5 linked regions of the Homo sapiens genome follow. The protein of the gene in region 4 purifies or fractionates together with the protein of the main gene of each other region. This does not show direct contact. Each region holds a gene or a part of one and is shown on either strand. Other genes may lie near its edges.

Region 1 (3,500 bases), on a different chromosome or scaffold from region 4:
TGAGGCGACAGGACCGAGTTGGGTCCCACAGTTGGAAAGGGATCTTGTGCCTCTGCAGACGGGCACACCATCCAGTGCAGCAAGCCATCCAAAATTGGCAAGCAGATGCTTTCCGTGTAAGCAGACAAGTCTAGCTGCCCGGAAATGTTGGCCAACGTGACCAACGTGTTATCCCTCAAGACCTCGAGGCAGTCCCACCACCACTCATCTTTGCTGCAGGCCACCCCCTTGTCCTCATCCTCCTCTTTCTCATAGGTCTGCGGTGCTCGCTTTCTCTCTGGATGCTCGTGGTGAAGAAGAATCAGCTTCCCCAGGATCAGCACCAGGCCTGGATGTTTGGACATTTCGGCATCATTGCCAGGCACGAATGACAAGCTACGGACAATATTGGACACACAGATGCATCGCTTAGCCAGCGAGTCCTGCCAGTGCGCGATGGTACACAGAGGAGTCTCGTCTCGGCTCCTGGGCTCGTCCTCCAGCAGCTTGATGTTCCGGTGACTTTTGGCTTGCTGGATACCAAAGGGAAACTTACTGCTTTCGGTCTGGGGCCCAGGGTTTGCGTCTTCAGGCAATGCCCCTGGCCGAGCAGAGAGGACGTCATCGATGGTTGCTATGATGCTTTTCTCTTGCTGCTCTTCAGAGTCGCCTTTGCCTTCTTGCTCTTTCTTTCTACCTGCGGAGCTTAAGGGGGGAGGTGGGCGCCTGCGAGGAGGAATTTCCATCTTGCTCTCAAAGTGAGTCTGAATGTGCTCGGTGGTGTCACCCCCGCCGAGCTGCCAGTGCAGAAGGCCACTATTGAACTCCTGCACACGCCCCAACTTGTCAGATCGGTCAACAACAAACAGGTTGTTCTTTTTGACTATCTTTATTGGCAGCTTGTCGAACTTACTGGCTTGCTTGGGCTTCTCCTTTGGGTCTGCAGCGGCGTCCGGGGCAGTCAGAGCGATGCTGCTCTTTTCATCGCTTTCTGTCTTCTCGCTGTCTTCCTCCTCATCCTCCTCGTCTTCCTCGTCGTCATCAATACATTCAGCATCTTCCTCCTCTTTCCCAGAATCGTCTGCCAAGGACTGGCTGTCATCCTTCCTTGCTGCGTTGTGATCAAGTGCTTTTTGGCTGGGGTCTCCCACTTCATATTCCATAAGAATTCCAAAAATGTCAATCAGGCATTTTCTAAAGTACTCGACTAAAAGTTCGAGAAATCCAGACAACTGGAGAGGAGGAGGAGGAGAAGAAAGAAAGAACAGGTACAATGTCATGACATCAGATATGACCGAGGAGGGTAAAGATCCTGAGACCCGTCAATACCTTTCCATCATTGTCACACGTTTGTCTCCCTTTTTGGCTGGACCATGAAAGATAAACTACCCTTCAGGTCCAGCGAACTTCCTGAATTTTACAGTATAAACTAAACCGATGTTTAGCATGTTCCTTATTTGCTGCTTCCTTGCTTAGACTATCTACACGAAAACTTACTTTTTATTCTCATATCTCTAATCTTATCACTGAGGGAGTGCCTTGCTGTTCTTTACCTTTCTGTTCCTGATTTAGAGACAATGTACTCATTATTAGAAGAGTGGGAACATGGATTTTATAGACTCTTTTGCCCAAAGTGACTCTGTTCTCTTCTATTATTTATCTGAGACTTGCTTGCCGGGATTTTTATGGTTGTTATTCTTAGGATTTTATGGTTATTTTTGTCTCAGGTACCATAGGTCACCCTAATTTATGTTCTCTATATATCTTTTGGAGAAGATAATTTCAGCAATGTGGTAGCTCATGAACACTGAAAATTAAAAACAAATCAATTTAGCCTATGATAAATAAATTAAAATGTTTCATAAAATGCAATTTTACATTTCAGTTATTTATGACTCTAGCTGAAAGGCAAAAACCACTATGAGAGAACCACTGACTACAAGAACAAGTTTGGTTTCCTTTAAGCAACTGTACCAAGAAAAAACCAATACACTTCACGATTAGCAACTGCCCTCTCTCCCAACACCCCCCACCATGTTTAGGAACTCTAAAGAGTAAGTAACAAGGATTCTAACAAGGATTCTTTCCCGGTAGATGTTCTGGAAATCAGCTATACCTTCATATCCTACTGTCAGTTTCTTGAAAGTAGAGTTGGAACAATTTTTAAGAAGTCAGGGGAAGCCCCCAGCACCAACTAGAAAGAACTGCTTTTAGTGTGCTGAAGGCACAATGTTCCAAGGGCATTTTCCCTTTTTTTTCCAGGGGAAAAGGGAAAGTTAATAAAGCAATTCTGGTTATGCAAATATGTGATCAACAACAGTTCACCTAACATAAGGATGAAAGCGCATTACTCTAGCAAATGCAGTATACAGTTTTTAAATACTTATTTTCTGTTAACACAGAACTCGTACAATGTTTATGACCTTATTAATAAACTTTCTAGCAATTGAAAAATTGCCTTTCTAGGCTGATAATGAGGGCTTAAATGAGAGAAGAAAGAAGTAGAAGATTCTGGTCTTATTTCCTTAGAAGCAAGGAAATTAAGTGTTTTAGTTTTTGCACTCAAAGTAGAGAGTTGTTTGTATACTATAGGGAAAATGACCTTTTTCCATTTTTTATTTCTAAATATTTCTTTAAAAGTCTATAGCCCAGTGGACTCGGGCATTTTCCCCAAACTTCAGTGCTCCTCTCTTCTAGCTATTATGCTGGAAGCTACCTGAAGCCTACCTCTGAACAAAGGAGGGGTTTAAGCTCATTAAAAGTAGTAGGCTTTTACATGACTGCTTCAAAATAACCTGGAGAGAGGCAGAAATGAGAGAGCATAGACTAAGAAGTAAGTTTAGCCATGAGTTCATAACTATTTTAGCTGACTGACAGGTACATGGGGGTTCATTAAACTGCTCTCTCTCCTTCTATATATATTTATACATTCTATAAATGTATAGAATATAAAATTTCTAAATCTTGAATATCTTTTTAATGAAAAGAAGATGTCAAGTCCTCCTGGAAAGCAGGGTTATGTCCCATTGCAACCAACTGTGTTTCCAATGCTGACTCCAGTCACAACTTAATGTTACATTTTGATTTCTTCCCATTGGCCAGCTAATATTCATTCTGAACAATTTAATGTTACTACTGTCATCTATCCCATATACACATACACACACAGTCACTGTTCTCTCATAAGAAATAGAGGTATGTGTGTGTACACACACTAAAGACTACAGTGAATATTATCCCAGATAACTCTACATTGATTAAGGCTGGTTGATAACAACTGCAGTGATTAACAGTGTTGGACGGTCAGTGCTCATCAACTCAGGCATTAGTTCAAGCACAAATGTGCATGGCCTGATGCTCTCCTATCCTAATTTGGTTGTTAGTTGGACTATGCTGGCTTACCTGGGAGAGATTGAAAGTAGCAACAGTGCTGTCATCATACAGAAGAATATTAATAGTGTCCAAAGCCCACGTACTCTCAGCCAAAAGACCTGATTTAAGGGACATCATCACACGCCACG
Region 2 (6,623 bases), on a different chromosome or scaffold from region 4:
ATACCAAGACATTGTTTCTATTCTTTTAACAAAATACAAAAAATAAAAATAAAAAAGAAGAAATTTATAACTATGAGAACAAGGCAAAAAGTGATATAACTACTGTACTATAGTAAAAGGAAGACCTACACATACTTACAAAATACGACATTTTTAAAAATAAAAGTTGGTCCCTAAGAACAAAAAATTTCTAAAAACACCTCAATACTTTTCTCCAAAAAGTCAATATGCACATTGCTATATGCATTATTTTTTTCTTCGAATCTTATTATGTCATATCAAACCATGCTGCAGCAACATCCATTTTTTGTGCACACCATACCTTTTCTTAACTATAGGTTTCTAAGAAGTTAAGAAGTGTGCCATCATTAATGGAGTTGCTGTCAGAATCATCAATTTTCCTGTTCTCTCTCCTGGTAACCAAACTGTATAGAGAAACACATGAACTCCCTTCTGATCTAGCACTGACTGGATCTTGCTGTTGTTTGGACTTTTAATTGACCTAATAAAAACAAAAAAATAATTCTACCATAAGCATTAAGTAACTTTGGGGGAAAAAAATGTAGCAAGTGCCAGTTTTGTGAAGCTACAATGATTGGCAATTTTTTCTATTATCTCCTTTTGCTTTCAGTATATCTCATGAAAATTATTAAAAATCTGTATTATTTTAAAATTATATTATTTCATCATAAGGAATTATCAACAGATTAACACTAACTTCTTTTATCTGGGTACATTTTAGTGCTCTGTTTATTTTATAAATCAAAATCTAGAAAATTTTATTCCAAATACATTTAATTCTATCTTACAGTCTTAACTTCATTACATTTTGTAACTGAAATAGCATTAACCTGGAAATAAGCCAAATGTTTTAACAGTCAATTAGCAGAACAGAGCGCCACTTACTGGCTTTTAGTTATTATTCACAGAATACTTAAAAGAGAAACATGGTACAATTTCATTCTGAGATTGGTAATAAACTTTAATGGACTTACACCACTCTAAGACAAGTACAGCAGCACCTCCACTGAACATTCTAATGGCAAATTATTTTAGAATTACCTTTTAATGCTGAAACACAGCATCAGAAAACATCCATATAAATCAAGGGGAATTCATATAAATTAATACATCCTTAATAAGTAAAATGAAGGAGCAGGTGTTTATTTTCTCAACTTTCTAGCTAAACCAAATGTTTGGTTCTTCATTGACTGGCTTTAAAAAACAATTCTCAACAATACAGAACCTCAAACAAACTGTCCAAAAGACATAAAAATAAATAAGCTTAAAAAGCTACATTGAGCAAAGAGATTTAAACTAGCTTCAAACTCAACATCTCCTTTTTATGGGCATGACTGTCACTCACTTTAAACTTTTATTTTTATGAACCAGCTAAGAACCTGACAACAATCATTTTACTTTTCAAAGGCTAATAGAGCACTCTAGTCAAGAAGGACATAAAGCTTAGTTACCTTGGTTTGGCTGCATACTCATATTTGGTCTGGGACCATAGTTTCCCATTGGTTGTCCCTGACTCATTGTCATCTGATTCTGTACTGGCATGCTCTGTGATGATGGCACAGAATGGTTGTAACCTCCCATGGATCCATGGCTACTTGAAGGCATATTCATGGAACTGTTTGTCATATTGAGTTGATTGGGTCCAGGTCCCTGCATAGGCATATGGTTAGGCCCTTTGAAGAAAAATGATCAGAAGCAAAATATGAAAGTTAAACAGATGGTCCATACAAAAGTACCTGGAAATAATTTTTTTTTTGCATTATTATAGTAATACCAAACAATAATTAATCGATAGCAAAGTAAATGGTTTATAGGAAAAGACAGCAAATACTGTGAAGTAGTTATTCCCATTTTTGGATTAAGAAATTGATGCTTTTGAAGTCAGGAGCACTCTGAAAAAGAAGGAAGGACTAGCTTCTTCATAAAAGAGCAAAACATATCATAAGGTTGGAGTAATTAACTATGAACATAAATGAATAGACTAACAGATCGATTGAACAGAACAGAGTCTAAAAGTAGACCCAAATACATAGCTGAGTAAATAATCACAGTAATATTAAGTATTAGTGAGCAATAGAAAACTAATTCAGTAAATGGTATTGTGACAACTGGGGAGCCATCTGGAAAAAACAAGTTGGATCACTATCTCATTTGTTCCACTAACTAATTCTAGATGAATAGAAAACTTAAACATTTAAAAAGAAGAAACCATAAAAGAATTTCAAAAAGGAGAATTTTAAAAATAATAATGGAAGGACCTTCTTAAGTATGCCAGAAAACCCTGAGCCATAAAACATTGATAAATTAGACTATACAAAATTTAAAAATTTGCACGACATAAAAAACTCAAAATTAAATAATAAAAAGGTAAATAAGAAAATATTATTTATAAGATAGATCGCAGACCCAGACCAAATTAATTACTTAACATATGAAGTAAGTAAAAGACCACCACCAGTAAAAGAATGGGCAAAGGACATAATGAGGGAATGACTAGTTCACACAAAAACTACAAAAAGGTTCATCAACATTAAAAGATTGATTGCTTCACTTAAAATAGGAAGGCAAATTAAAACTATGAGACCGAACTTTCACCTCTCAGATTCTCAAAAATCAAAAGTTCGATCTAACTATATTGTGAAGAAAGAAGCACTTTCATCCATTGTTGAAGGAACAGAAATCTTACTTATATTTCATGGGGAATCAAGCTTGTGGAATCAAGGGTGGGATCAAGCTTGAGGAAATTTGTGATGACAAACAACAATTCAAATAAAGTAGTTGTCCCTCAGTATCTGTGGGAGATTGGTTCCAGAACCACCCACAGATTTCAAAATCCGTAAATGCTCATGTCCCTGACATAAAATGACACAGTATTTCCACATAACCTATGTACATCCTCTCATATACTTTAAATCATCTCTACATTACATGTACTGCCTAACACAATGTAAATGCTATGTACATAGTCACTATACTGTGTTGTTTAGGGAATAATGACAAGAAAAAAAAAGTATGTACATGTTCAATACAGTCACAATTTGTTTTTCCAAGTATTTTCAATCCACTGTTGGTTAAATCCATGGATGTGAAATTCATAAATGCAGAACTGATGGATATTACTATTTTTACACAAAGCAATTTGGCACTAACTGTCAAATTTTAAAATATATATACCTTTAACCCAGCAATTTCAGTTCCAGGAATTTATGCTAGAGATATACAAATTTTTGTGTGCATGCGTATTGACACACAGAACACATATATATGTGTATATATATTTTTACAGCAAATTCATGACAGTATAATTCATAATAACAAAAGACTAGAAGCCTATGTTTCCATCCTAAATGTTCGAATAAATTAAACTTGTAAAAAAGAACATGATAGAGACCAAAAAGAATAAGGCATCTATTTACATATGGAATAAAATAATGGTCTCCAAGATATATCTTTGAGAAAGAAAAGATACATAATAGTATTTAATGAGTGCTATCATTTGTACTTTAAAAAAAAAGAGTAAAAATAAAGGAAATACACATGCATTATTTTATATAGAGAAAATCTCTCTCTCTTTTTTTTTTTTTTGAGACGGAGTCTCATTCTTGTTGCCCAGGCTAGAGTGCAATGGTGCAATCTTGGTTTACTGCAACCTCCACTTCCCGGGTTCAAGCGATTCTCCTGTCTCAGCTTCCCAAGTAGCTGGGATTACAAGTGTGTGCCACCACGCCAGCTAATTTTGTATTTTTAGTAGAGATGAGGTTTAACCTCACTGGTCAGGCTGGTCTTGAACTCCTGACCTCAACTGATCCACCCACCTCAGCCTCCCAAAGTGCTGGGATTACAGGCTTGAGCCACCATGCCCAGCGAGAGAATATCTCTTGAAGGACAACTAGAAACCAATGCCTCTCTAGAACTGTCTGGAGAGGTGGCGGCTAGGCATCCTTTGGTATCCTTTGATTTTGGTCCCATAGGCATGTATTACCTAGCTTTTAAAAAATCAATTAATTTTTTAGGCTGGACTCGGTGGCTCATGCCTGCAATCCCAGCACTTTGGGAGGCTGAAGCGGGTGGATCACCTGATGTCAGGAATTTGAGACCAGCCTGGCCAACATGGTGAAACCCCATCTCTATTAAAAATACGAAAATTAGCCAGGTGTGGTGGTGTGCGCCTGTAATCCCAGCTACTCGGGAGGATGAGGCAGGAGAATCGCTTGAACCCGGGAGGCAGAGGTTGCAGTGAGCCGAGATTGTGCCACTGCACCCCAACCTAGGCGACAAGAGCAAAACTCTGTCTCAAAAAGAAAAAAATAGTAATTTTTAAAAAAGGGAACCTGAGACTGAGTAGTGATTTGACCCAGATCAATGAGAACATAAGTAGCTCTAAAACTGAGTCTACATAATGAAATATACATTAAAAACCAAACTGAAATAGGAAACAGCCAAGATGCAAATTTGTGTGCATAAACAGGTTGGCTAAATGCTATAAGGAACAAATAAAGAAAATATAAGTTACTGGCCTTCCAATTTCTCCTACACTTAACTGTAACTCCGTAACTATTGTTAGGAGAAATTCTTTCTGTTTTTTTTTTTTTTGTTTTTTTTTTTTGATGGAGTCTCACTCTGTCGCCAGGCTGGGGTGCAGTGGCGTGATTTCGGCTCACTGCAACCTCCGCCTCCTGGGTTCAAGTGATTCTCCTGCCTCAGCCTCCTGAGTAGCTGGGATTACAGACGTGCAATACCACGTCCAGCTAATTTTTTGTATTTTTAGTAGAGACGGGATTTCATCATGTTGGCCAGGATGGTCTCAATCTCTTGACCTCGTGATCCACCCGCCTTGGCCTCCCAAAGTGCTGGGATTACAGGCGTGAGCCACCGCGCCTGGCCTGGAGAAATTCTTAACTATTGTTTCGGAAGCTCTATAGTATTCTGAACAACCCAGGTCATAAGTGGTTGATAATAACTAGCTTATAAAAGAATATACTTCAGAAGGCCTTACACAAAACCAAAATGTCATGTTAACCATAACTGTACTGCTGCTCAAATGCTTCTTTGGCCTTAGGCTTCAATGTTACACAGAGAATTTAAGTCAAAATCCTAATTCAAAGTACCATCATAAAAAGTCACAAAACTCCTAACTAGCTAACCTGCACTATCACTACCTTTCCAGTTCTAAAAACAGTGTGTCCTGGTGAACTAAATGTGGACTTGGCAAGAAGCTTTCTCTTGACTACAATATGACTACAAACTGAAAAGCAGTGATGTCTTTATTCCTACCTCCATACTGGATGTGTGCCATATATGTTGCAAGCCTTAGCAGGAAATAGGAGACAGCCACTGAAACACCACTGCCCTCCTATATGATCAGTCACACCTCAATCTTCTATAAGCCAGGCTACCTTACCTCTTTTGCTCTGTGCTCTCTTGTTTCCTTACTGCACCCATCATCCTTGGACACCAATGCTATCAATCAACACAATCGGCTACAGAAAACAGTATCCTAAAGATGCCAATTACTAATTTTAATAATTGTTCTGTTATTTTATTTCCATTACTGCTAGTTGTATAATGTCTTCTTTATCAATGAAAATAACTTTTGTCTTAGAAGGTAAAAATATTCTGATACCTAATGTAGATAATATTCTACCAAAAATTACGGCCATGGGTTGATGCTACTGTTACAAAAACAAAATAGTGTAAAGATACTTGTATGATTAAAATTTCAAACCAGCCAAAGGTAACTAAATCAGCATCCAATGTCTTAAAACATATCAACCTAGTGACCCTACACTTAAAATTGACAAATAGAAAAGAGAATGGCTCAGTGTATAAATAATGTAAGGAAGTTTACATTATTTTTCAGCCTTTAATTTTTGCTTTAAAATCAATTCCAATATTTATGTTATGCTATAAACCTATGTATTAAAAAAATTTAGATTCAGCTTCAATATCAATAAGGAAATACTAAATACACCAGCACTTCAGAGACTGTTTTCTTTCCCCATGTGTTTTTCCCAGTGATACTGTTTCTGAGATCAATCAATATTTAAGTAAATAAAAACTCAGGGAAATGTTATAATATCTTTTTTAAACAGACTTTAATTCTTAAGCCATGGTGCAACGCCTTTTTTTCCAAAAAGCTTCTAAAGCCAACTGTATTGCAGTTTCAGACAGACTAAATTTAGCCAGTTCTGTTCATCAGAGGAATGGTGTGTGTCAGCTACATCAAAGCCCAAGGGCAGCCTGATAAACACTGAATACAGGTCACGTAGCTCTGTAGCTAACAAACTCTAAGAGAGCTTGTACTCGGGGGCATTCAAAGCAGTTTTGTCATCAACAATCTAGTATCCCTTGAGCCCCCATGTCGTTTCAGTTGCTAAGCAACTCTGGTGTTAATGTCTTAGAGGAGAAAAACTTACCAGGCATCTGGCCGTTCATCTGGTTCTGCATGTGCGGTGCAGGAGGACCCCCACCTACCATTCCATCTGAAGGCATGTTGTGAGAGCGTGGAGGTGGGGGAGGGCCGCTCTGATTCATCCCTCCAGGACCCATAGGCATATTCTGTGTGGGTGGCTGAAAGAAGACAGTTTAGTAAAACAAGAGAA
Region 3 (6,623 bases), on a different chromosome or scaffold from region 4:
TAATATAGAGCTACAGGAATCAAGGCAGTGTGGTACCAGTGTAAGGAGAGACACATATGTCAATGGAACAGAACAGAGTCCAGAAACAAACCAACACATTTATGATCAATTGGTTTTGACAAAGGTGCCAAGGAAATTCAATGAAGAAAATACAATCTTTTCAATAGACAGTATTGGAACAATTTAATATCTATCTGCAAAATAATAATGACTTTACACCCTTACCTTACACCATATATGAAAATTAACACAAAATGGGTCATAGATGTAAATGTAAAACTATAAAACTTCTAGAAGAAAACATAAGAGAAAATTTTTGTGACCACAGGTTAGGCAAAGATTTCTTAGATATGACACCAAAGTATGATCCATAAAAGAAGAAAACAACTGATAAATTGGACCTTATCAAATTAAAATTCTTTGCTTTTCAAAAAACATCATTAGAAAAGGAAAAGACAAGCCACCAACTAGGAGAAAATATTTGCAAATCATATATTTGGTAAAGAACTTGTATCCAAAATATCTATAGAACTTTTATAACTCAGTAATAAGATAATTCAATTTTTTTTAATGGACAGAAAGTTATTTGAGTAGGCACCTCTCCAAAAAGGATAAATGAATGGCTAAGAAACATATGGAAAGATGCTCAACATCATTAGGGAAATGCAAATTAAAACCACAATGAGATAGCACTGCACTCTCTTATGATGGCTACAATAAAATAAGATTATACCAAGTGGTGGTGAGGATGTGGAGGAACTGAAGCTCTCATACACTGCTAGTGGGAATGCAAAATTATACAGACACTTTGGAAAAAAGTTTGATGGTTTCTTAAAAAGTTTAAGATTCACCTACTTATGATCCAGCCATTTCACACCTATGTATATTACCCAAAAGAAAAAGAAAATATGTCTCTACAAACATTTGTACAGAAAAGTTTATAGTAGCTTTATTTGTAATAACCAAGAATTGGGGCTGGGCACGGTGGCTCATGCCTGTAATCCCAGCACTTTGGGAGGCCAAGGCAGGCGGATCACGAGGTCAGAAGATCGAGACCATCCTGGCTAACACAGTGAAACCCCGTCTCTACTAAAAATACAAAAAAAAAAAAAATTAGCTGGGCATGGTGGCAGGCGCCTGTAGTCCCAGCTACTTGGGAGGCTGAGGCAGGAGAATGGCATGAACCTGGGAGGCAGAGGTTGCAGTGAGCTGAGATCACGCCACTGCACTCCAGCCTGGGCAACAGAGTGAGACTCCATCTCAAAAACAAAAAAAAAAAAACAAAAAAAAAACCAAGAATTGGAAACAGCCCAGATGTCTGTCAACAGGTGAACGGATAAACAAATTTTGATATATCTGCACAATGGAATGCTATAGAGAGAAAGCAGATAAGTGGGTTGCCTGAGGTTGGAGGTGAGAGCAGGGATTGACTCCTAACTGGCATGAAGGAGCTTTTCAGCAGATGGAAGTGTTCTGTGTTCTAAACTTCAATTGTGGGAAAACTCATTGAACAGTAGGCTTACAAGGGGTGAATTTTATGGAATATAAATCATATCTCAAACTGTTCCATGACAAAAAAAAAAGAGTATGTCTCTTCAGCAAGTAATTGGAACTCTGGCCTTATGATTTGGTATTTCTACAGAATAATTGTCTGTAATATTTTATATATTAATTTCTATATTTCACAGAGAACTCAAAGGTGCAATTAACCCCTCATATAGTACTTTCACTACTGACAAGTAGTTCTGTTTGGTAGTAGACAATTCTTTTATATAAGTATCTAATAAATTAGTAAAAAAAAAAATTGTATTGAGTACCTGCCAGCAAAGACGGGCACATACTCCAGTAGGTGTATATCAGAACTATATCCCATCTTTGATGCCCCCATTTTACTTCTATTTGTATTAATAGTGGAATCCTGCCTGTCCCTCTGGTGCCATCTGCATAAAATAATATGTTCTGTTTTTTTTTTTCTCAGTCACCAAGCAGCCCCCTCTACAGAATGAAGTCAGGAAACCGAGTTGCAACATTTATGATCTATGTGAGTATTGCTCTGGGCTTCTTACTTCATGACTGACTATAGCTCTACTTTATTTTATTGTTTTCAAAGCAATTTCACGTATTGATTTTATCTGGTACTCAGCGCAAAAATCTCCAGGAATTTTGCGAATTTCAGACAGCATTTTTGATAGGCACTGTAGGAGATGTAAAGAAATACAAGACAAGGTTTCTACCCTGAAAGAGGCTGACAGTGTGTAAATCTAAATATGACCTTGGTATGGGCAGTGGATTAGGATGGGAAGTGGAGCTCCACTGAAGGCCAAGAGATAGAGGGACTTGAACAACACAGGAGGAGGATCTGAGAATCTGTGTCCTTGAGGTCTCATGGACTAATCAGTGTTGAAAAACAACCCATAGATGAGGTTGTGGGGCTGTGGGGAGGGAGATGGATGAGGAATGAGGCAGCAGATTTACAAGAGGGAAGAACAGAGACACTGAGAGAAATTCAGCAAGTGCTGCCTCTGATGTTTAGTGAAAATTCTCTTCCTTATCTCTCTATAAAATCTTCAGTAAAATCTCCATGACTCCCCTTTCAAGATAAACCAATAAATTGTACTTCTCTCCTAATTCCTGGCCTGATCAGGATTCGGCCCCAGTCTGTATCATCTCACCTGTCCCCTTCCCTTCAGATCATGTGGGTTTACTTTCGTCTCTATGGACAAGCTTCCAATCACCTGTCACTGGAAGAGAATATTAGAATTAATCACTTATTAGAAGAGATACCTTACTGTTAACTGAAGGGACAAACATATATAAGGGTTCTATATAACAACCAAAGATGAAGTCCTTGTTTCAGCCTCATTAGAATAGCAGACATCCCTCACCCCAGCTTTTCCTCTTCTATTAGGACTGTCTCTGGTCTCCACAGGACAGCCAAGAAAGGGCAGTCAGAGGCCAGCATTCTGTGTAGTCTTTAATGCCAGCAATTCCAGTGTGTTTCTCTATGTGGCTCAGTTCTGTACTTCCTATGGAACTGGAAGGCTTCCACTTACAATGGTGTCTGGCCTCATTCTGATCATTCTGAGGTCAGCTATCAGGCAGGGGACACATCTTGGAGCTGCAGTTGGTTGCATCTCTGGTTGACCACTCCAGCTGTTATGGGAGGTCACAAACGGCGAAAGAATGAACTGCTGCCAAAAAACAGGGCATCTAGGGCACAATATATCTCTGTTCTTTATCCCCTCAATATCTCCTATGGCTGGTTCCCTGGTTACAGGGCCCCAGTTACTATAGCGAAGGTAGCGTGGGTATAAGAGCCCAGTAATTTTAAATGGCAAATGCATGTGTGTGTGTGTGTGTGTGTGTATGTGTGTGCATGCACTCTCATGCACTTTCACATGTGTGTGCATGCATGTGCATTTGGGTTTTAAGTATTTGAGACAGAGTGGAATGGAATACACTTTGGATTTGGAGTCAGTTGACCTAATCCTGATTTTGCCACTTACTATGTGGCCTCAGCACAGATTACATCTATTATGTGAGCTCACTTTTTGCCCTGTGCTTCCTCACAGTGTTGTTGTGAGGGTCTGATGAGATAATGTAAGGAGGGATGTCACTCTGGAAAGTTCCATACTGTATGTTTCTGTCATTGTATCCCACAGAGCAATTAAAGGAAAGGGTATCATAAAGGGGAATCAGTATCATGGGACCAGGGAAGTGCTAGATTATGCCCAAGTCTTTCATCTTCAGGTTGGGATTTCTCGAGACAATTTCAAGACAAACATTTCTCAAGACAAATGTTAAGGTTTGTGGGAAACCTAAGACTGATTTTATAGGGAGAAAATAATCTTTAAGAAGTACAGAGGATTGAGTTGAAGTCCAGTTGGTGATTTTCTGCTCAGATTGGACATAAGATCAGTCCCAATCTGGGTGCGGTGGTGTGCACCTGTAGTCCCCGCTACTTGGCAGGCTCAAGCAAGAAGATCGCTTGAGCCCAGCAGTTCGAGTCCAGCCTGGGTAACATAGTGAGACCCTGTCTCTATTAAAAAAAAAAGATCAGCCCCAGTACAAAATAGTAGAAGGTATACAGACGGAAGATTTCTCTCCCTTTCCCACTGTTCTTACAGCCCATGCCGTGCTCATGAGCTTCATTGCATGCAGAATCCGATTTTCTTTTTAATGTGTTGGCTATGTCATTCCTTTCCACCATATTGTAAAACCACAGGTAAAAGAATGCAGGAAAGTCCAGGTTGCCCCTTACTGACAAGGGCTAGAATAGAATAATCTAATTTGTTACCTGAACACAAGGAGCCAATTGTTGTTCTCATCGGCTTTCCCAGTGTGCTACAGGGAGAGCCAAGGAATGCTAATAGTCACCACTGCCATTTCCAGGTTCCAAATCACCATGTCAGTTCACTTGCATCTACCAAGGGCCAGCGTCCTACCTCCTATACCTCTTGCTCTGTAACACAAGTAAATGTACCGGGATCTGACTGCCATAAGATTACAGAGCATGAACCTTCTGGTAGATAATGCTAGGCAGCGTGAGGTAAAACTGGCACTCTTGTGTGATGCAACTGCTGAAAAAATAATTTAGCAAAATGTATAAGAAGTATGAAACTTATGCATGTCCTTTTGACCCCATAATACTAGTGCCAAGACTCTTTCCTATGAAAACAATCCAAAATGCAAAATGATTTTTTTTCATTAAGTTGTTCAGTGCAGTGTTGTTTATAATAGTAAACATTTGGATATGACCTAAATTTCCAAATGTGTAGCATGATGGTTATGAGCAGGGACTTTGTAGTCACATGGCACCAGCTCAGCTCAAATCCTGACTCCATCATGGAAGAGCCATGTGACCTTTTATAAAGTGCTTAAGCTCTCTGAGACTTGGTTTCTTTATCTGTAAAATGTGAAGAGTTAAAAATAATAACGATTGTAACTCCTAGGATTGTTCTGAGGAATAAATGAGATAATATATTTGCAAGGACATAGTGTAACTTTTAGCATATAGTCAGTGCCCAATAAATGTCAACTATCACTATGTAAACTATAACTTTTTTCTGGATGGTACAATGATAATTATTGTTATTTAAAAATATTTTCCTGTTTTAAAACAGTTTACAATTATTATATATTTCTGTGACAACCAGAAAAAAAGCTTCACATTAAGAAAACATATCCATAGTCCTAGAACAGACCAGTGATGAAACTCCTTAGCTTGGGTTCCCTGGAGAGGAGCAGAGTGATCTGGAGAATATGCCAAAGGTGTAATAAGTAGTTCCTATGATGCCCAGCTTTCAAGAAGAATCATAGTCTAAACTGGTTTTCAAGCCACAAGTCATGATCCATTATAGGTTGTGAGATTAATTTAGTGGTTCTGATGAGCATTTAAGAGAACCACACTAGAATAGAATAAAATAAAGTAGAGAAGATCAGAAGCTATCTCAGATATTAAGAATGTTTTATGACAATTATATTTCAGGAGGTGTGTGTGTGTATGTGTCTGTGTGTGTGTGTATGTGTGTGTGTCTTGGGTCATTATTTAAAATGTATTTTTTCCTAAGGGTCTCAGTCAAAAAGTTTGAATCTACTTATTGTAGCCCTCAATAAGGATGTTAGCTGGAAGGGAAAGAAAGGAAGAATACCAAAACATTGTCCTCTTGTGGCCCTGTAGGCAAACACCAATGCCATTGAGTAGGCTCCCGAAGTTCCTCCTGAGTTGGATGATTGTCTTTCAAGTATTTCTCTCAGAGTTGAAGAAAAGACCATGAGAAGGAATCTATGCAGATGTGACATCATATGACAGGGTAGGGAAGTCGGTGGCAGTTTTAACTCTGGCTTCTTCCTCTGGTCTTGTAGCTGAGCTCGGTGGAAGCTGGAGGAGCCACAGCCTTCATCTATGCCAACCTCAGCGTGCCTGTGGTTAGGGTGAGTGGGGCCCTGGTCCCAGAAGACGGGGTTGAGGGAGTGCAGCGCTTACCCTCTAACCTTCACGCTGTCTGTGCTTGCAAGCCCATTCCTGGGAGGAGGGCCAAAAAGAGGTCTTCCCCAATTCCCAGAATCACAGATCATCCCATAGTCTTCTTTACTACCGCACACATGCTCGTCACTTGTGCCTCTATTTGTTATTTTATTTACACTTATATTGCAAGTAGATGATTACATGTCTGTCTTCCCTGTCACAGTACAGCTCCTCAAGATAAGAGCTCTGTTTTATTTACTTTGGATCCTCTACAGCATCTAGTTCCTTCCATCATTAGTTCAGTCCACATTGAGAGCTAGAGGCACGGAGGGTGCAGAGGGAAATTCATAGCCCTTTGATCCAGGAGTTTACAGAGACGTCAGCAGGCATTATGATGTTGCAATAGGGATTTGGAAAGGATAGGCGCTGAGGAGAACTGAGTCTAAGAGGTTTGCTTCATGAATGAGTATTTCCTCCAAATTTCAGATCAGTCCAACTCCCTGGCAGCCCTTACCTAATTTAGGAATGAAATGAAGATAACTAAACGAGATCATTCCTGTAAAGCAGGTAGTACAGTGCCTGGCACATCCTGAGCATTCGATAATCAATGCCAGGTATCTCTGAATACTCAGGAGCTTGACGCCTCTTGTAGGCT
Region 4 (6,623 bases):
AAAACAGCTCCTCCCATGGTTCCCGGATCCAGGCAAGCAGGGCTGTCAGCTGCTCCTGACACACCACACGGAGTGCCCAAAAGCTCTCCAGCCGGGACACCTGGCAGACCGAGCAGTTAGCAAGGCGAGGCTCATGGGGACCACACCAGGGTGGGTACAAGGGAGGTCTCTGCGAAGGCCTCACTGTCTCCACCTTGGCTCAGTGCCTCTCCCCTTCCCCAGGCCCATGTCACTCCCCATAAAAGATCCTGACTCTGAGCTTTGTAAACAGAATCCAGCCGACGTTTACTGAAAGCCTCCAGAGGACCTGTCTTTTTCATCTTCCCTGTTGTACAGAAGATGCGGGCTCAATTTCAGGGAACTGTGGATTCAATTCCCGGCTCCACCACTTTGGACTGGGCAAACTGGTTAACATCCCCAAGCCTCAGCTTCCTCACCTGTAAATAGGACCAGTAACCGTATCTCCTCAGGTGGTGGTCACAAAGGCCAAACGGCTGGCATACAACCGGCCCAATCCTGCCAACTCAAAGCTGCCGGAAACCTCACTGAAAGCCTCGTGGCCCAGCTAAATGGCTGGGCTCCCAGTCCAGGTGTCTCCCCTGCCTACAGCTGCCTCCCTGACTTGATATTCATCCAAGCCTAGAGTCCCCCAGTTCCTCCAACCCTAGTTCTCTCATCTGTAAGTGCCATCCTGCCACCAATGCCCAGGGTTCCTAGACCCATTTCCCACCCTGCCCTCATGGCCCCAACCTGTGCTCACCATCTCCCCTCCCTCCCTCTCACTGGAGATACACATACACACCTCATCGTAGAAGAGCAGCCGCAAGTCCTCAGGGGCTGAGCGGTAGAGCAGCACGGAGCTCAGGCTGCTGAGTGGCTGCTGCTCCCTGACACGCACAGCAGGGCCCGGCCCCGAGGGAGGCACCTTCTCAGAGGCTTCGCCAGATGCTGCTGGAGGAGAGGGCTCTGCCGGGGACCCTGCAGCATCCTCATCTAACAGGAACAGGGTGGACGGAGTCAGCAACAGGGATACGAGGCAGGTGGAAGGGCCTGCAGGGAAAGAGGCATCCAGTGTGGAAGGTCATGGAGGGGCCCAGATCCCTGGGGCCAGCGTCCCAGTGCTGCTGGGGAGAAGAGGTGTGAACCACACTCTGAGGTGGGTCACAAAGCAGCCTGTGCCCCTGGGGCCAAGACCCTCCCTTTCCCAAGCTCCATGAATCTCTACTCTGGAATACCTCTGAGGCCTACCGCCCCCCACTGCCCCACACCCACCCTACTCAGAAACAAGGCTCCACCCTCTCCTTCTGTGACTGATGAGGCAGGGCCGACTCAGCCACGCTGCTCCACTTCATAGAAAGCCTGGGCCCGAGAGCAAAGGCTCTGGGTAACTGAGGATCCTGGGTGCCTCCTAACCCCACCCAGAGGGTCAGGGCACACTGAGGCTGTTACTCAGCTATGCCCTCAAGTGAGAGGTTCTCCAGGTTCCAGGAACTGACAGTTGCTGCAAGGGCACTGTACAGGTGCTGCGCGTGGGCCAGTGCCTGTGACAAGGTAGGGTACAGAGACCAGGGAAGCATCAGCTGCACAGAGGCTTCACCTTCAACCAGGAACGCCCGAAGGTAGAAGAACTGGCGAGCCTCCAAGGATGAGTCTTTTTCCAGCAATGGCCTAGAGGGAATATGGCAGGCACAGGAAGATCAGCTAGCGGGTGGGAAGGACTTGAAGAGAGGGGAGTGGGAAGAAAGCCCTGCAGGGGGTTGGGAGGAGACACTAGGGGCCCATAAGGGGCATGGCATGAGGACAGGTGGCTGCCCAGGACCTACTCAGCACAGGGCCATGTCTGGGGCTCTGTGGAAAGAGGATTGGGCAGCAACCCCAGCCTCTGCCTCCTATCGACTCACCAGAGCCGGTGCTGGGGGGTGACCTCCTCCTCTGTGGCACTGACACAGTTCCTCCAGGCAGGGGGCAGAGACTGCAAGACATCTAGACAGAGGCAGGCCAGGGAACTTTAGAAGGCTCTGCTCTCCTCCAGCCTAAACTCACCACCTCTCAATCCCTTCCTATTCTCCACATTTCTGGATTTCAGAAACTTCTACAAGGGACAAGTCCTGTTACCTCTCTGTCTCCGCTACTGGGTACCAGGTGGGGAGCCTGGCCCCAAGGCCCTGCCCACCCTCCTGCCCACCCTCCTGCCTTCCCCTCCCCTCTCTCACCAAGGAGCTCCTCTAGGAAGGCCCGGCAATGCCTGGCATCTCGGGGCAGCAGCACACAGCGGCCCGCCCCAGCTGCCCACTCTAGCCGCAGGCTCTGGCCTGCCAGGCCCAGCTCTATGCCACTCAGATCCTGCAGGGGAACAGCCAGGGTCAGCTGCAGCCAGCTAGCTGGAGGCTCACTGTGGAGAGAGGGGACAGAGCAATGGAGAAGCATGAGAGTGGAGTGAGAGTCCCAGAGAGGCCCTGCCCCAGCTGCACCTGCCTCACTCACTGCATCACCCCCGTGCGCTCACCACACCCCATCTTCCCCCTCATTCCATCTCCTCCCTCACTCACCCCATCTCCCCCTCACTCACCCCATCTCCCCCCTCACTCACCCCATCTCCGCCCCCCACTCACCCCATCTCCGCCCCCCACTCACCCCATCTCCCCCTTCACTCACCCCACGTCCCCCCCACTCACCCCACCTCCCCCCCACTCACCCCACCTCCCCCCTCACTCACCCCACCTCCCCCTCACTCACCCAATCTCCCCCTTCTCTCACCCCATCTCCCCCCTCACTCACCCCATCTCCCCCCTTAACACCCCATCTCCCCCCTCACTCACCCCATCTCCCCCCTCACCCCATCTTCCCCCTCACTCCCCCATCTCCCCCCAACTCACCCCATCTCCCCCCTTACTCACTGCATCTCCCCTCTCACTCACCGCATCTCCCCAGTCACCTTCAACAGGTACAGCCTGCGGTCAGACACAACCACAAGGCACATGAACTCCCCAGTGTGGCCTGCCAATGCCACTGGCACCTGGGGGAAGAGGAAGTTGGTGAGAAACCTGATGAGAGGCCTGGGGAGGTGGGGCCAGACTGAAAGCCGAGTTCCTGGTGACAGCACCCTCGGCCTGACCCTCCCACTGCCCACCCACCAGTCTATGGAGCTTCCCTCACACTCGACAGCCTCTTCATCCACCACCGCTCTCTGCCTTGCAGCCCCTGCCCGCTCAGAGCCTCAGCAGCTGGCTTCCCTGCCTGTCGCCTCACCCCCTCCACGCTCCGCCAGACTAACTATTCTAAGGCACAAAACTGACCATCACTGCCCCATTTCAAATCCTTCAGTGGCTCCCAGTGGCCCTCAGAAACAAGTCCAAACTCCTTGGCAGACACAGGAGGCAGCTCCTGACCTGGCCCCTGCCGGCCCCCCAGAGTCCTCTCAGGACCCCTGCCCCTCGCCCTGCATGTCCAGGTGCCCTCATCCTGGGCAGTTCTCCCCACCAGCGACACTCTCGGGCCTCCATGCATTTGCGGCTTCCTTTACCTAAGACATTCTTTTCCTCCCTACTCCTTAACTTACCCTTCAAGACTGAGCTTAGACATCACCTCCCAGGAAGGTTCCTTGACCCACTCAAGCTGGACTAGACACCCCTTCAAGGGCCTTAGCCCGATTACAGCATTTGCATATTGCATAATCATTGTCAGCTTCTCACACCAGACTGTAAGATCAAGGGCAAGATTGATCTGTAGATCCTCAATGTCTAGCACAACAGGTGCTCAACAAAGGCCTAACGACATCATGTGTTTATAATAATGCTAGGAGGCCCCATTGATGAGTGCCAGGTGCTGGGCTGGGCAGCTTCAACATGAGCCCTGACGCACGCCACTGTGTAAGGGAGGCATCGTTATCTCCATTGCAGACAGGCAACAACTGGGACTCAAATACCAGGGAATGTGTCCACGGCCACACAGCAAGAAGCTGCTGGGGTTGAAACCAGAAGCCAGATCAGGTCTCTAGAGTGCTTGATCTGACTCAGTTGGCTGTGATGGAAACGAGTGGGCACCCTGGACAGCTGGGGGCATGGGCAGTGTCAGGGAGCACAGACCTTGAGGCAGCACTGGAACTCCTCCTGGGCATCGCTGAACACCTCAACATCCAGGAAGAGCCGGAGTCGGTGGTCCACAGAGCGGAGGCCACAGCGCTCAGGGGCTGAGGGCAATGAGGGGGCATCAGCCTGCCCATGGCAGCCCCTGGGCTCCATCTCCACCTCCCCATCAGTGCCCCTTCCCTTCCCCAAACTCATCTATGTCTTGTTTTGCCTATACTCACGGGGACTGAGGCTCCAACTACCATGGTCACGGGTGCTCGGTGCCTGAGGTGGGCTGTTCTTGGCCCTGTCAAGGTGGTCACCATGGCCAGGAGGGTGGCAGACAGGGCTGGCAGACGGAGAAGGAGCCAGAGACTGCTCTCCCTGTTTCCGCTCCCTGTTGGGGGTTCCCCGAGACACAGCGAGGAGAACCACGTGGTCACTACCACAGTTAGGACACACAGCAGGAGATTCTGGAGGGAGGATGGACACGGTCCCCATGAGCCCCCCCCACAGTGCCACAACTCCCACCATGCTCACGATGCTCCTTCCCCATGCTCAGGTCTCCCCTGAGCCCAAGCCTCCAGCTTCATACACAACCACCGCGCCCCAGGCCACCAGCTCCCTCTCCCGGCACAGCTGCCAACTGATCACTCCCCACCCCAGGGAGGGATGAGCTAACCCTGGCCCACAAACTCCTCAAAGTGCACTCTACCTTCTAACTCTAGGCCCTCTCAGACTGGGCCAAACACAACCAGGACCTGCTCTTATGCCCTCTTACAGACTTGGGCTGATCAAGTACTTCAGGGCTCTCCTAGCAACGTCTGAAAGACCAAAATCAACAGGTCTGGAAAGGCAGAGAACTCTGTTGCCAAATTTCGGTCCAATTCCAGGCTCCATCAATTAATGGCTCTGTAATCATGGGCAAGTCATCTAAGCTCTGTGAGCCTGGTTCCTCGTCTATAAAACAGGGATGACAATAGCATCTATCTTATACTCATCCTTAGTGTCAGGAAGCTGGGAAGGAATCAGGACATGGATCAGCAATGAGAGAGGCAGCACTCTGAGCAGCTACACCGTGATGGGCATGCGCTACCTCCTATGCCACTATGATCGCATTTCATCACCAGAGAAACTCTCCCTATCCCATTTTGCAAAGAAGAAAGAAAATATTAAATCATTTACACATGCTGCCCAGGACCATACAGCTGGGGACAACGGCAGCAGCTACCATTTACAGGAGACCTTTGTGTTGTGCCAGGCCCTCTGCTTGGTGCCTTACTGTCACATTTAAATAGCGTAACAGCACCATGGGGTGAGTTCATTCCCTTCTTTGTTCAGAGGAGGTAACTGAGGTGCAAGTGAAAGGAGAATGGTTGGCCGGGCGTGGTGGCTCACGCCTGTAATCCCAGCACTTTGGGAGGCCAAGGTGGGCAGATCCGAGGTCAGGAGACAGACCATCCTGGCTAACACGGTGAAACCCCATCTCTACTAAAAATACAAAAAATTAGCTGGGTGTGGTGGTGGGCGCCTGTAGTCCCAGCTACTTGCGAGGCTGAGGCAGGAGAATGGCGTGAACCCGGAAGGCAGAGCTTGCAGTGAGCCAAGGTTGTGCCACTGCACTCCAGCCTGGGCAACAGAGCGAGACTCCGTCTCAAAAAAAAAAGAAAAAAAAAAATTAAAGGAGAACAGAGCCCACAGTAATGTTCATTAATAACGCCACCATGGAAGAGGCTCCAGAGACCACAGCACCTCATGGTGTACAGCCAGGGTCCGGGAGGGGCTGGGGGCTGTTTCTGTTTGCGCTGTGTCACTAAGGCTGCATGCCCAGGCCAGTTCACAGTGGGGAATGGAGCAGGGCTCCATTTTCTGAATAAAATCTAAACCCCTGCTCCAGCTGCCGCCAAGAAGAGAAAACCGTCTAATAAAATTCTGGCATTTCCACAGAGCTGTTATCAAGAATATTTATTTCTTCTTCAATGTCTTCTTCAAAGATAGTGCTGACTGGTCTACAATGGAAACAATTCTTGTTTTAAGGACTAGCGCATGAAGAAATGCCACAGGACATTATGTACCTTCCAAGGTCAGCCGGGAAGGATAAACCAAGCCAACTCCCCAAGCATCTCACTCAACAGCTACACTTGCTGGCAGAGGCAGCACCACAATCCAATACTGCAGTGAGGGCTCATTAGGTTTTATGTAGTGTCTGAAATATCAGCCAAAAAATCCCCAACACAACAAGCCTTCAAGTTATGAAAAAATAATGAGTATGTTTAAGCACAGTTACAGAGATTGCATTTCCTGACTTTTAGAGTTAAAAAAAAAAAAAAAACAGGATATAGTTTCTTCTTTTTTTCTGTTTTCCTTTTTGTAAATGCAGCAGGCAGACGGTTTTCTTTTTCCTCCAGGCAGAACAACTGCTCTCCACTCTAGCCCCTTCTCCCTAGGGCTCCCCCTTCACACTCCCCTACACAGAGCCACTTTCCCTGGAACAGGGGAGGCGTGTGGGCAGAGAGGTCAAGGGCAGGACTTGTACCTGTCTTTTGGAACAGAGGC
Region 5 (6,623 bases), on a different chromosome or scaffold from region 4:
CCCCGAAGACTTTTGAAAACTAGAGTACTAATTTTTCATTTTTGTCATCAAGTAGGGTTAATAAAAAGCCTGAACATCTTTTCACTAGACTTATGTAAAATATGCATTTGATTCTTACTAAGAGATAATGTGCCTCCCCTCTTTGCCCTCAACCCAAAAAAAGAAAAAAGTAAATAAAATGTCAGCAGCCCCAAGTCTGGCTGCCAGCTCACATCCACCTCGACCACTGTCCCAGGTCTTTGCTACTTCTCTGTGCTGTCACTCCATTTGTAAAACAGACCTAATAATAGCATCTACCGCATACAGTTGATATATATGCATTAACTTATTTAATGCATACATATCACACCAGTGCATGGTACATGATATTACTTAAAATAATAACATAGAAAGCAAAATTTTTAGTAACCAATTATTGTAAACAAATTTGGGAAGCATGTATTCTAACAAATTTAATCATCTATTTTGTCTGAAACTATATTGGCAATCTCTTCCCCTAGGTCAGACAGCACTGCTTCGTGCCACCTCCATTCTCACCCTCAGTAGCCCCCATTCAGGAGGCAACCCTAGATGAAGACTTCTCCAACTAAGACAACACACCAAAAAGCAAAGGGGTTAATATACTTGCATATGACTTTTAATAATTTGCTGATGCCAAAATAAAATTTTTAAAAATTAAAGGCCGGGTGCAGTGGCTCACGCCTATAATCCCAGCATTTCGGGAGGCCAAGGTGGGCAGATCACCTGAGGTCAGGAGTTCGAGACCAGCCTGGCCAACATGGTGAAACCCCGTCTCTACTAAATATACAGAAAATTAGCTGGGCAAGGTGGCGGGCACCTGTAATCCCAGCTACTCGGGAAGCTGAAGCAGGAGAATCACTTGAACCAGGAGGCAGAGGTTGCAGTGAGCCGAGATCGCGCCACTGCACTCCAGCCTGGGCGACAGCGTGAGACTCCATCTCAAAAAAAAAAAAAAAAAATTTGAAGAAAAACTTTTAAAAAATTGCTGCTCATGATTTAAATTTGAATTTAAAAAATCTTTTTTTATTTAAAAAATTTCTGCCCAAGATTTGACTTTCAAATGGTGTGAGTTATGATACTATATTTTAAATTCTATTCTCTAAAAAATAGTATATTATGAAAAACATACGGTTCCAGAGTAAGGCTTAAGGTTGAAGTAAAAGCTGAGACTTTAAAACAAAATGGGCTGGGCACAGTGGCTCACACCTTTAATCCGAGTACTTTGGGAGGCCAAGGTGGGCGGATCACTAGGTCAAGAGATCAAGAGCATCCTGGCCAACATGGTAAAACCCACCTCTACCAAAAATACAAATAATTAGCTGGGCGTGGTGGCATGTGCCTGCAGTCCCGCTATTTGGGAGGCTGAGGCAGGAGAATCACTTGAACACAGGAGGCAGAGGTTGCAGTGAGCCGAAATCACACTACCACACTCCATCCTGGGTACAGAGCAAGACTGTCTCAAAAAAAAAAAAAAGAATCTGTTAGCCCTGTTTTTTTCAGTTACATTTAATTTGGGAATAGGAGATAAGTAACATTTAGGGTCCATATTGGAGCAGCAGCCAGGCCAGGTCAGCAATGTGGCTGGGGCACCCAGTTGCCCATGCCTGCCCCTCTCCGCTCCTTCTCTCATCTTCTCTGCAGTAAAAGTCAGTGTTTCTCAAACTCTAACCTGCACATGAATCACACAGACATCTGTTAAAATGCAGACTCTGAGTCATAGGTCTAGAGTTGGGCCTGAGATTCTGCATTTCCAACAAGCTTCTGAGCAATAACAGTGCTTTGGACCACGGAACATACCCTGAGCAGTGAGGTGCTACAGAACCCCCAGCATCTGTCTCTAACAAACCCAAACAGAATGGGCAGAGACAGAGGCATCTAGACTTCACCAGCATATATTCAAATTCTGACTACAGGGTATTGTTTACCACAGAACCAGAGAAGAATAGCAACACAAATCCTATACGATATCTTACGGTGATATCTATAGACCCCAAAATTGTTAGGAGGCAAGTACAAAAGGCTCTGAAACCCCTTACCAATAGCCGATACCAACTGTAACTAAAACTACTAAATACCTCTTATAATATTCCTGGAACTGTCCGGGGATGAGAGCCACTGGGTAAGAACTGACCTTTGTTCGCTCTGTTGGCAAAACTTTGTACTTCCCTTGAGGTACCTGGATAACCTACGTTAACATAAAGAGAAACACAAAACTGATTCCATGCTAAGAATCAAGGCTTTAGGAAGAGTCCCCACGTGCTCACCACTGCACGCCCACTTCCCCCTCGAAAAGCTAAAATTTTAGGAGATATCAGGAGCTATAACCTAAGAGGACAGTTGGTGCTTTCAGTTCTATATATTATTGTTTTAAAGGCCTATTCTCCTGAGGAATGGCAGTGGATCTCTTGCTCACTACTTAACAGCAGAGTGATCTGGGTAGCTTATACGACCTCTCTGTAGCTCAATTTCTTTATGAAATGGAAGTAATCCTAGTTCCAACCTCACATGGTTACTATGAGAATTAACATGCAAATCTCTTAAAAACTCTTGGGACGCACAGCAAGTATGATATGTAGCTATTATTAGTCTCATTTAGAATTATTAACCGTAAAGCAAAAGACATCTCACAAAAAAATGTAAATTGAGTATTATTAAGCACACCATTAAAAATAACATCTCAACTTCTGAGGAAAAAAAGAACACGCAGGTGTCAGCATGGCCAACATGGTAAAACACCATCTCTACTAAAAATACAAAAAATTAGCTGGGTGTGGTGGCAGGCGCCTGTAATCCCAGCTAATGGGGAGGCTGAGGCAGAAGCATCGCCTGAACCCGGGAGGCGGAGGTTGCAGTGAGCCGAGATCATGCCACTGCACTCCATCCTGGGCTACACAGACTCTGCCACAAAAAACAAAACAAAACAAACAAACAAACAAAAAAAACACACACACATAGGTGGTACAAAAAATAACGATAAAGGGGGTGATGGGCACTCTGCAATAACAAGTAATAAACTAAGTTCAGGGGGTACTAAATTTAAGTTATCCTACATGTGTCTGCAAGTCAAAATAAGCTCTTCTTTCTTCCATGCGTTCCCGGTTTAAGTTGCTATTAAATTCTGCTGCTTTTTTGGCAGCTTTCTTAATATACTCAGGCACTTTACTGGCTTCAACTTTCTGAGTATTCTGTTGTTGCATTTGCTGGAAAAAAAAAATACAGTTGGAAGTCACATATAACTTTCTAAAATGTCATTTTCCCCAACCCAAATAAAAAATGCCAGTCACCTCAATTACTTACGGAATACTCTTTATAATGGTCTGTAATTCGTTGACGTTCTTTTTCTTGTAGAATAACAGAATACTCAGCATGTTTGGCTGGATATTCTTTTATCATTAAATCAATCACTTCATCACTGCGCAATGCTGTTAAGCCTATTTTAGACCAAAAAATAAAAAAATAAAGAAGCTCTTTTAAGGATAAGTGAACAAAAGCACTCTTCAAAATTTAATTCTTCAAACCGCTCCACGTTGTAATGGTTTTCCAATAGCCAAAGCAAAATATCTTAGTACATTTGAAAATAATTAAACTTAATATTCACAATATAAACTCGAGCAATCAAAAGATTATCTTGCAAAAGGCAAATATATCAATTTTTCAACCAAACAAGTTTATTTTTAAGATTCTATGTGCTTTGAACATATATCCCTTTAGTTGGAAACAACTGTTAAATAATGAAATGCACTAACTACTAACAAGTACTACAGAATACTAGATGAATAAAAAAAAATTCAACATATTATAGTTCCCAGTCTTCAAATTCCATACACAAGAAATATTACAATCAATTAAAATTTCACCAAAAACATCAGCACACACACACACACCATGGAGACAATTTTCAAAACTCACAGTATCAGATTTCACCAATTGCTAAAATGCATTCCCAAGAATTTATATAAAAAGTAGCCATGTTGCATTAAAATGTTTGTGAAAAAAAGATTACAAATAAAGCACGGACATAATTATACAGAACTAAAAATTGAAGAAAATTTGCCTTTTTGCATTTTAGAGATGTGGTCTCGCCATCTTGCCCAGGCTGGAGTGCAGTGGCTATTCACAGACATGATCACAGCACACTACAACCCCAAAGTCCTGTGTTCCAGTGATCCTCCTCCCTCAGCCTCCCAAGTAGCTGGGACCACACGCACACACCATGCACTTAGCAAAGAACCTGCAACTTAAAAAAATATATTGTACAAGCTTTGTACAAAAAATACAAACACTCTGAAAACTCTGTAAAAATTATTAGACAAGGGCTGGGCATGGTGGCTCATGCCTGTAATCCCAGCACTTTGGGAGACCAAGGTGGGTGGATCACAAGGTCAGAAGTTGGAGACCAGCCTGGCCAACATGGTAAAACCCCGTCTCTAATAAAAATACAAAAATTAGATGGCTGTGATGACATGCGCCTGTAGTACCAGCTACTCGGTAGGCTGAGGGAGAATTCCTTGAACCCGGGAGATGGAGGTTGCAGTGAGCTAAGATCGCGCCACTGCATGCCAGCCTGGACAACAGAGAGAGACTCTGTGTTAAAAAAAAGAGAAAAATTAGACAATTATACTCTGTTATAGAATAGAGGTTGATCCTTGACTTGCAATGGGGTTACATATGATAAACCCATCCTAAGTTGAAACTATCCTAAAAAGTAAAAGCATTTAATACATCTAGCCTACCAAACATCTTTGCTTACCCTAGCCTAACTTAAACATGCTCAGAAAACTTACATTAGCCTACAGCTGGGCAAAATCAGCTAACACAAATTTTAATATAAAGTGTTGAATATGTCATGTGACTTGTTACATATTATACTGCAAGTGAAAAGAATAATGGTTGTATAGACACTTGAAGTATGGTTTCTACTGAATATGCATTGCTTTCACACCATCATGAAGCTGAACCATCATAAGTCAGGAACCACATGTGTGTTCAAGCTTCATTCTCCTGTGTATTTTAACAATAATCAAAAATGAAGTAAATAATGTAGCATTTAAATAGTTCAATTTATTTTATTAATTTTGTAAAATATTTTAGGAAATAAGATACTTATCTAGTATTATCTCATAAATGTTCAGCTTGAAAAATTCACATTAAAAAGCTATTCTTACCTAGAGTGCACTGAGTTTCAGTAATGACATTTAGCTCTCTCAGGTAGAGTTTCTCCTTGTGAGACAAATCTCGTCGCTCTAAATCTCCAAAAAAAAGATCAAAAGACTATTAAAAACAGCAAAACCTTATGCACTTGTAAAACTTTTAAAAGCTTAAAAACCTTGACTTTTTAAAGTATTCATATTACATATTCCAAATATTATTAAAGGGGCTACAAAAAAATTTATAAATTCAAGAAATAAAACTCAGCAAGATACAAAAGTTAGAATAAAATAGGAAATAGAATAATCCAAAGCAAGAAGGTCATATAAATAACTATACTAAACTAGTTCATGAGGAATAGCCTTTCTCAAATTCAGATACGGCTCATATAGCTAACTCTATTCCTTAGATCAAGAAACAATGGTAAAAATCCCAAACTTGACTATAAAATGATTTTTTCTAAAATTTTCCTCAGGAAATTCACCTTTCCCATTTTGCTTTTAAATCAGTTTATGAGCCATAGAAAATATCAATAATGAAGAGTGATGCTGAATGATAGCAGTAAATGAAACACAGCCAGGCGTGGTGGCTCACACCTGTAATCCTAGCAATTCAGGAGGCTGAGGCAGCAGGATAGCTTGAAGCCATGAGTTTGAGACCACGCTGGGCAACATAGCAAGACTTCACATCTCTAAAAAAATAAAAATTAAAAAAATCTGCCACGCGTCGTGGTGCACACCTGTAGTCCCAGATACTTAGAAGGCTGAGGCAGGGAGACAGCTAGCCCAGGAGTGCAAGGCTGCAGTGAGCTATAATCGCACCAGTGCGCTCTAGCCTGGGTTACAGAATGAGACCCTTAGTCTTAAAAAAAAACAGCAAGCACAAGAATATAAAATATAATCTACAGAAAAATTCAGAAGTTGACAGTGTATCATAAAGAATTACTATCAATTATAAATTAATCTATTATATAAACTAGTACCTGGATATTTCCTTTTAAAGGAGGTCACACCCAAATATTCACTGACTTGTTCTTGAAGCATATAGTATTCTCCTGTTTCATCAGGTGGCCATTTGTACTCTATCAAGTTTTCTGCTGGATAGTAACTAAAACTAAGTACAGAAATACATATTATGCATTAAATGTAGCTTTCATTAATTTTTAATCACTTTTATTGAGGATATTTTGAAAACTATTTTAAGTATTTAAATTATTTGCCTCCTATGACTTGACTTCCTGTGTATCAAAGAAAATTACAAAACAGGTACAAGGAATAGAAATAATTATCTGGTCTACCAAGTCAAAAAGGTATGTGAAAATAACATCTTTTATACACTGGGAAGAACGTAGAATCACAATTGCTAAGAACGAAGGCATTTTTAGTTTAAAGGACCTATGAGGGCAAAGCAAGGTGATGATGGTATCAGCTCTGACTTCTTTCTCTTGGGCTTAA

Evidence for each region.
Region 1: the proteins of STK11IP (region 4) and ARID1B purify together in Homo sapiens (affinity purification with mass spectrometry, with the first as the bait; one large-scale study listed by BioGRID). This does not show direct contact.
Region 2: the proteins of STK11IP (region 4) and SS18 purify together in Homo sapiens (affinity purification with mass spectrometry, with the first as the bait; one large-scale study listed by BioGRID). This does not show direct contact.
Region 3: the proteins of STK11IP (region 4) and P4HA3 purify together in Homo sapiens (co-immunoprecipitation; one large-scale study listed by IntAct). This does not show direct contact.
Region 5: the proteins of STK11IP (region 4) and PHF10 purify together in Homo sapiens (affinity purification with mass spectrometry, with the first as the bait; one large-scale study listed by BioGRID). This does not show direct contact.

The regions. Positions count from the first base shown.
Region 1 is NC_000006.12:157,203,878-157,207,377, reverse strand, and holds part of ARID1B (AT-rich interactive domain-containing protein 1B), read right to left. Parts: coding exon 3,382-3,500; intron 1,212-3,381; coding exon 1-1,211. UniProt on the Homo sapiens protein: Involved in transcriptional activation and repression of select genes by chromatin remodeling (alteration of DNA-nucleosome topology).
Region 2 is NC_000018.10:26,051,152-26,057,774, forward strand, and holds part of SS18 (protein SSXT), read right to left. Parts: intron 6,592-6,623; coding exon 6,438-6,591; intron 1,695-6,437; coding exon 1,473-1,694; intron 1-1,472. UniProt on the Homo sapiens protein: Appears to function synergistically with RBM14 as a transcriptional coactivator. Isoform 1 and isoform 2 function in nuclear receptor coactivation. Isoform 1 and isoform 2 function in general transcriptional coactivation.
Region 3 is NC_000011.10:74,268,963-74,275,585, reverse strand, and holds part of P4HA3 (prolyl 4-hydroxylase subunit alpha-3 isoform 1 precursor), read left to right. Parts: intron 1-1,978; coding exon 1,979-2,041; intron 2,042-5,865; coding exon 5,866-5,934; intron 5,935-6,623. UniProt on the Homo sapiens protein: Catalyzes the post-translational formation of 4-hydroxyproline in -Xaa-Pro-Gly- sequences in collagens and other proteins.
Region 4 is NC_000002.12:219,609,521-219,616,143, reverse strand, and holds part of STK11IP (serine/threonine-protein kinase 11-interacting protein), read right to left. Parts: coding exon 6,604-6,623; intron 6,274-6,603; coding exon of another isoform or gene 6,263-6,273; exon of another isoform or gene 6,018-6,262; intron 4,892-6,017; exon of another isoform or gene 4,783-4,891; intron 4,541-4,782; coding exon 4,310-4,540; intron 4,190-4,309; coding exon 4,086-4,189; intron 3,017-4,085; coding exon 2,919-3,016; intron 2,393-2,918; coding exon 2,214-2,392; intron 1,984-2,213; coding exon 1,902-1,983; intron 1,669-1,901; coding exon 1,598-1,668; coding exon of another isoform or gene 1,455-1,597; exon of another isoform or gene 1,273-1,454; intron 1,051-1,272; coding exon 803-1,050; intron 438-802; coding exon of another isoform or gene 354-437; exon of another isoform or gene 326-353; coding exon of another isoform or gene 317-325; exon of another isoform or gene 101-316; coding exon 1-100. UniProt on the Homo sapiens protein: May regulate STK11/LKB1 function by controlling its subcellular localization.
Region 5 is NC_000006.12:169,712,637-169,719,259, forward strand, and holds part of PHF10 (PHD finger protein 10), read right to left. Parts: intron 6,283-6,623; coding exon 6,152-6,282; intron 5,271-6,151; coding exon 5,187-5,270; intron 3,453-5,186; coding exon 3,319-3,452; intron 3,222-3,318; coding exon 3,072-3,221; intron 2,207-3,071; coding exon 2,097-2,206; intron 1-2,096. UniProt on the Homo sapiens protein: Involved in transcription activity regulation by chromatin remodeling. Belongs to the neural progenitors-specific chromatin remodeling complex (npBAF complex) and is required for the proliferation of neural progenitors.